Linked DNA regions of Homo sapiens. The protein of the gene in region 1 interacts with the protein of each later gene in a biochemical or structural test. Each region holds a gene or a part of one and is shown on either strand. Other genes may lie near its edges.

The links.
Region 2: the proteins of PXMP2 (region 1) and PEX19 form a complex in vitro, tested with the Homo sapiens proteins (one study listed by IntAct).

The regions. Positions count from the first base shown.
Region 1 is NC_000012.12:132,690,489-132,694,296, reverse strand, and holds part of PXMP2 (peroxisomal membrane protein 2), read right to left. Parts: intron 1-3,808. UniProt on the Homo sapiens protein: Seems to be involved in pore-forming activity and may contribute to the unspecific permeability of the peroxisomal membrane.
Region 2 is NC_000001.11:160,278,914-160,282,134, forward strand, and holds part of PEX19 (peroxisomal biogenesis factor 19), read right to left. Parts: coding exon 3,126-3,221; intron 1,334-3,125; coding exon 1,157-1,333; intron 933-1,156; coding exon 888-932; intron 722-887; coding exon 638-721; 3' UTR 1-637. UniProt on the Homo sapiens protein: Necessary for early peroxisomal biogenesis. Acts both as a cytosolic chaperone and as an import receptor for peroxisomal membrane proteins (PMPs).

The DNA.
Region 1 (3,808 bases):
AAGGGAGCTCACTAACTAACTGGCAAGGGAGCTCACTAACTGGCTAAGGGAGCTCACTAACTAACTGGCTAAGGGAGCTCACTAACTAACTGGCAAGGGAGCTCTCTAACTAGCTAAGGGAGCTCACTAACTGGCTAAGGGAGCTCACTAACTAACTGGCAAGGGCGCTCACTAACTAACTGGCAAGGGCGCTCACTAACTGGCTAAGGGCGCTCACTATCTAACTGGCTAAGGGCGCTCACTTAACTAACTGGCAAGGGCGCTCACTAACTAACTGGCTAAGGGAGCTCACTAACTAACTGGCAAGGGAGCTCACTAACTGGCTAAGGGAGCTCACTAACTAACTGGCAAGGGCGCTCACTAACTAACTGGCAAGGGCGCTCACTAACTGGCTAAGGGCGCTCACTATCTAACTGGCTAAGGGAGCTCACTAACTAACTGGCAAGGGAGCTCACTAACTAACTGGCAAGGGAGCTCACTAACTAACTGGCTAAGGGAGCTAACTAACTAACTGGCAAGGGCGCTCACTAACTAACTGGCTAAGGGAGCTCACTAACTAACTGGCAAGGGAGCTCACTAACTAACTGGCTAAGGGAGCTCACTAACTAACTGGCAAGGGCGCTCACTAACTAACTGGCAAGGGCGCTCACTAACTGGCAAGGGCGCTCACTGACTGGCAAGGGCGCTCACTAACTAACTGGCAAGGGCGCTCACTAACTGGCAAGGGCGCTCACTAACTAACTGACTAAGGGAGCTCACTAACTAACTGGCAAGGGAGCTCACTAACTAACTGGCAAGGGAGCTCACTAACTGGCTAAGGGAGCTCACTAACTAACTGGCTAAGGGAGCTCACTAACTAACTGGCAAGGGAGCTCACTAACTAACTAAGGGAGCTCACTAACTGGCTAAGGGAGCTCACTAACTAACTGGCAAGGGTGCTCACTAACTAACTGGCAAGGGCGCTCACTAACTAACTGGCTAAGGGCGCTCACTATCTAACTGGCTAAGGGCGCTCACTTAACTAACTGGCAAGGGCACTCACTAACTGGCAAGGGAGCTCACTAACTGGCTAAGGGAGCTCACTAACTAACTGGCTAAGGGAGCTCACTAACTAACTGGCAAGGGAGCTCACTAACTAACTAAGGGAGCTCACTAACTGGCTAAGGGAGCTCACTAACTAACTGGCAAGGGTGCTCACTAACTAACTGGCAAGGGCGCTCACTAACTAACTGGCTAAGGGCGCTCACTATCTAACTGGCTAAGGGCGCTCACTTAACTAACTGGCAAGGGCGCTCACTAACTGGCAAGGGAGCTCACTAACTGGCTAAGGGAGCTCACTAACTAACTGGCAAGGGCGCTCACTAACTGGCAAGGGCGCTCACTAACTAACTGACTAAGGGAGCTCACTAACTAACTGGCAAGGGAGCTCACTAACTAACTGGCAAGGGAGCTCACTAACTGGCTAAGGGAGCTCACTAACTAACTGGCTAAGGGAGCTCACTAACTAACTGGCAAGGGAGCTCTCTAACTAGCTAAGGGAGCTCACTAACTGGCTAAGGGAGCTCACTAACTAACTGGCAAGGGTGCTCACTAACTAACTGGCAAGGGCGCTCACTAACTAACTGGCTAAGGGCGCTCACTAACTAACTGGCTAAGGGCGCTCACTATCTAACTGGCTAAGGGCGCTCACTTAACTAACTGGCAAGGGCGCTCACTAACTAACTGGCAAGGGTGCTCACTAACTAACTGGCAAGGGCGCTCACTAACTAACTGGCAAGGGAGCTCACTAACTAACTGGCTAAGGGAGCTCACTAATTAACTGGCAAGGGAGCTCACTAACTAACTGGCTAAGGGCGCTCACTAACTAACTGGCTAAGGGAGCTCACTAATTAACTGGCTAAGGGAGCTCACTAACTAACTGGCAAGGGAGCTCACTAACTAACTGGCTAAGGGCGCTCACTAACTAACTGGCTAAGGGAGCTCACTAATTAACTGGCAAGGGAGCTCACTAACTAACTGGCTAAGGGAGCTCACTAACTAACTGGCTCAGGGAGCTCACTAACTAACTGGCTAAGGGCGCTCACTAACTAACTGGCTAAGGGAGCTCACTAACTAACTGGCTAAGGGAGCTCACTAACTGGCAAGGGAGCTCACTAACTAACTGGCTAAGGGAGCTCACTAACTAACTGGCAAGGGCGCTCACTAACTAACTGGCTCAGGGAGCTCACTACCTAACTGGCTCAGGGAGCTCACTAACTGGCAAGGGAGCTCACTAACTAACTGGCAAGGGTGCTCACTAACTAACTGGCAAGGGAGCTCACTAACTAACTGGCAAGGGCAGGACCTGGTGCAGCACTCTAGGTTGTGTGCGTTGCTACTAATCATTCCCCTGTGTGTTTGGGAGAGAATGGAACCAGCTGCCACATCTACTGGGACAAGAGGCCTGCAGTTCCATAAAATTCAGCAACAAAAAGAGGGGTCTTTCAACTTGTGACGTTGACAGTCTTTAGATAAGTGGTTCTCAGTGTTTTTTCCCACCCAGTCATAGGGGGTTATGTGGCCTATGCAGGGATTCTCAGTGGGGAAGGGGACTGAAGTCCTGTGGATGGGAAAACTGTACTTGGATGAGGCCTGCTAGGTGATCTCATCACCTGCCCCTCTTGGGGGGATTACTGCTTTAAATACAGTATGGAAAAATCCATGATGACTCAAGTTAGCAAGCTTGGAAGTATAAAAATGATCTTCAGGAATTCTGAATTAAAGAAAACATCACTGTAGTTGGAAAATACTTCACATTACTGTTGGCCGAGAGCTCACGGTGGATTAAATTGGTAAAACTCTTGAATTACTGTGCTTTTGCAACTCAGAAAGTGGTTCAGAAACTGGACATTTTTCAGGGTACCGAAGCATTTATTTTCTGGATGTTTACACTATGAAAATAACAATAGAGGCCAGGCACTGTGGCTCGCGCCTGTAATCCCAGCACTTTGGGAGGCCAAGGTGGGCGGATCACGAGGTCAGGAGATCCAGACCATCCTGTGAATGGTGAAACCCCGTCTCTACTAAAAATACAAAAAATTAGCCGGGCGTGGTGGCAGGTGCCTGTAGTCCCAGCTACTCGGGAGACTGAGTCGGGAGAATGGCGTGAACCCAGGAGGCAGAGCTTGCAGTAAGCCAAGATCGCGCCACCGCACTCCAGTCTGGGCAGCAGAGTGAGATTCCGTCTCAAAAAAAAAAAAAAAAAATTAAAATAACAATAGAAACTAACTGGTCAAATTGGAGTCAGTTTTCCCTTTCCATGAGCCCAGTCTAGGACGCTTTCAGGGTTTTTGAATCCTGAAGTCTGACTTTAGGTTAAGTTGAGTTACTTGTCCTCAGGTTTGCCTCTCAGCCCAATTAAGACAGTCACCCCTACCCATCCAATTAAAAAGAAACATGATAAAACCACAAATGTGAGCCTGTACTCCTAGCACTGTAATCCCAGCACTTTGGGAGGCCAAGGAAGGTGGATCACTTGAGGTCAGGAGTTCAAGACCAGCCTGGCCAACATGGTGAAACCCCATCTCTACTAAAAATAACAAAAATTAGCTGGGCATGGCGGTGTGTGCCTGTAATCCCAGCTATTTGAGAGGCTGAGGCAGGAGAATCACTTGAACCAGAGAGGCAGAGGTTGCAGTAAGCCTGGGTGACAGAGTGAGACTCTGTCTCCAAAAAAAAAGAAAAAACAAAAAAAACCACGTATGCGTATATATGCCATACAAACTATATGAACCATTCGAGTTTTTTCCCATGATGATTACTACAATGG
Region 2 (3,221 bases), on another chromosome or scaffold:
CAGCCTGGAACAGGGAGGTGAGGGCTCAGCACCTAGAGAGAGGAGAATCCTAAGGCCTCTCTTTCAACTCTATTGTGATTAGATGCAAAAGCCCTTTCCCTTTAGAGAATTCAGAATGGTCTGTCTGAAGGCAAGAGAGCATAGTGACAGACCTGTAGCCCCAGCCCAGGCTGTTTCTCCCCATTCTCAAAGGCTCTGCCAGGAGAACTATAGAAATACAGAGTCCCAGGTCTCTGCCCCTCCTCCCCAGATCCAAGAGAGGGAGTAGAGACAAGGCACAAAGACCCTGGACGTAAAGGTGAACATCAGTGTGGCCACATATAACATTATTTTGAGAAAGGAAAGAAAGTGCATGCCCCAAAAGGGATGCCTTCCTTCACCTTGCAGGTAGCTGGAACTTTGATAGTGGCAGAAACCACAATGGAGTAGGGTTCACAGAAATGGCCTGTGAAACAGACCCTATTCCTAGAGAGACAGAGGAAAAACCTCAGCTGGTATGGCACAATCTTGAATGGGATGACAGAGGGCAGCGGGCAGACTTCTCCCGCAGGTGACACTCCTGCCTCAGGTCCCAATGGTTCTGCTGACTCCAGATGTTCCCCATAGCTGGGACTCAGAGAGGAAAACGTGTTGTGTTTCACATGATCAGACACTGTTCACCACTGGCACCTGGTGGGCCCGAAAGATTGAGGGCATCCAGGTCAAAGTTGAGGCCAGGAGGCTGGGGAAGAGATGAAGGGACTCAGATAGTTGCTCATTTTTTAGGACAGACGTGAAGATCCATCCCCAGTAGCCACAATTTTCACCTTAGGTGGAATCCTGAGAGGTTAAAGAATTCTGGAAATTGGGGACTCAAATTAAAATCTGGAAAAATAAGACATACTCACCATCTCTCCAGCCAGCTCTTTTGGAGGATGGCCTAAATCTTGTAGCTAGAAAATAAGGAAAATGGAACATGAAATAGAGAAAAGCCCAGAAAACAACAGAGGATCCAGAAGAGGAATCTAATGAATGATCTCTCTATTTCTTCTGAGAGAGATCACAAGAGAGGATCCCTCCTCCACCTAGGTCTAGCAGTATTGCATCCTTCCCAGATACTTCCTTCACTGAACACCTAAGTGGACAGCACCAGTGGGCAGAAGGCAAGAGGCCTTACCTGCTGCATAAGATCCAGCACCATCTCAAAACGAGCCTTTTGAGTGGTTTCACTGTCTGTGGGGGTCTCTGCCTCAAACTGCTCACATATTTTGCACATGACGCTGTGCTGCTCCTGATATTTTTCAAACTGCTCTGGAGGTAGAGATTCCCGATGACTCTGCAACCATTCTGGATACTAAGAAAAGAGAGAATGGGTGGAAAAGAATTAAGTGAACAATGGATATGGATGGGTAATCAGAACAATGTGATTAAAATGTGAAAGGGAAAGGGACGTAGAAAAACGAAAAGCTAAATAAGTAAGTTCATCATGAAAAGCGGCACTGACTCCAACCAGATCACCTGGCCATGTTAGCATTTATGGTCACCAGAGATTGGTAAGCTTCTGTAAAGGGCCAGACAGTGAATATTTTAGGCTTCAAGGGCCACATATGGTCTCTATTGTGTTTTTTTTTTCTTTTTTTTCGAGACAGAGTTTTACTCTGTCACCCAGGCTGGAGTGTGATGGTGTGATCACCACTCACTGCAGCCTCGATCTCCCCAGGCTCAAGCAATCCTCCCACCTGAGCCTCCCCAAGTAGCTGGGTCTACAAGTGTGCACCACTGTGACTGGCTAATTTTTTTGTATTTTGTAGAGACAGGGTTTCATCATGTTGCTCAAGCTGGTCTTAAACTCCTGGGCTCAAGCAATCTGTCCACCGTGGCCTCCCAAAGCGCTGGGACTATAGGAGTGAGCCACTACGCTCGGCTATTGCACATTTTCTTTGTAGTTTTTTTCAAATGACCTTAAAAATGTAAAAACCATTATTTGCTAGAGAGTTGGATTTGTCCCACCCAGGTCTTGGCCTGCTGACTCGTGGTCTGTACTATTCATTACACACTTACCCACATTTCCCCATGTCACTGAAAAGCTTCTATTCCTGTATTTTATCTCTCCAGTAAAACTATACACTCTTTAGCCAGGTGTGGTGGCTCACACTTGTAATCCCAGCATTTTGGGAGGCTGAGGTGGGAGGATCACTTGAGCTCAGGAGTTTGAGACCAGCCTGAGCAATATAGTGAGAGCTCAACTCTACAAAAAATTTTGAAAACATTGGCCAAGCATGGTGGCACACACCTGTAGTCCCAGCCACTCAGGAGGCTGAGATGGGAGAAACACTTGAGCCTGGGATGGGGAGGCTGTGGTGAGCCAAGATCGTGCCACTGTGCTCCAACTGGAGCTAGACCCTGTCTCAAAACAAAATGATACAACCACACATATAAGCTCTTTTATGGCAGGGACCATCATTTAAACTACGCTTACACTGTTCACATCACAAAGCCAGTAAGTAAATCCTCAGTTAATTCTTTTTCTTTTTCAGATGGAGTCTTGCTCTGTCACCCAGGCCGGAGTACAGTGGCACAATCTCAGCTCACTGCAACCTCTGCCTCCCAGGTTCAAGTGATTCTCCTGCTGCCTCCTGAGTAGTTGCGATCACAGGCGTGAGCCACTACGCCAGGATAATTTTTGTATTTTTACTACAGACGGGGTTTCACCATGTTGGCCAGGCTGGTCTCGAACTCCTGACCTCAGGTGATCCACCCGCCTCGGCCTCCCAAGGTGCTGGGATTACAGGCATGAGCCACCATGCCCAGCCAAATTCTTGCTGGAGAAATGAAGTCAGAAATGCAAGATTGATCAGACAACAATCCCAGAGTCTTGAACCAGTTTATAGAAAACTAGAACTGAAGGATTTCCTCTTAGACCCCAAACGTTATACCTCTTATACCCCAACATACCGTGTGACAGCTTTATTCTCTCAGAGACACAACTCTCCCCAACCCCCAACTCTCCCTGCCTCAAATAAATAAAGAAGGAAAAAAAGCACACTCGAGTTACTCTTTCTGCAGGCTCTGAGTAGACAAAATAGCCCACATCAGTTGATGTGATGGAAAATGAAGAGAAAAAGCAGAAATGGAAGTTCACAAACCTTTTCTGTGATCTCCTTCAGTGATGGGTACAGCACATCCTTGGAGAGTAGGTTCTGCATAATACTCTGCATGATGGGGAGGATGTTCCCTTCCCC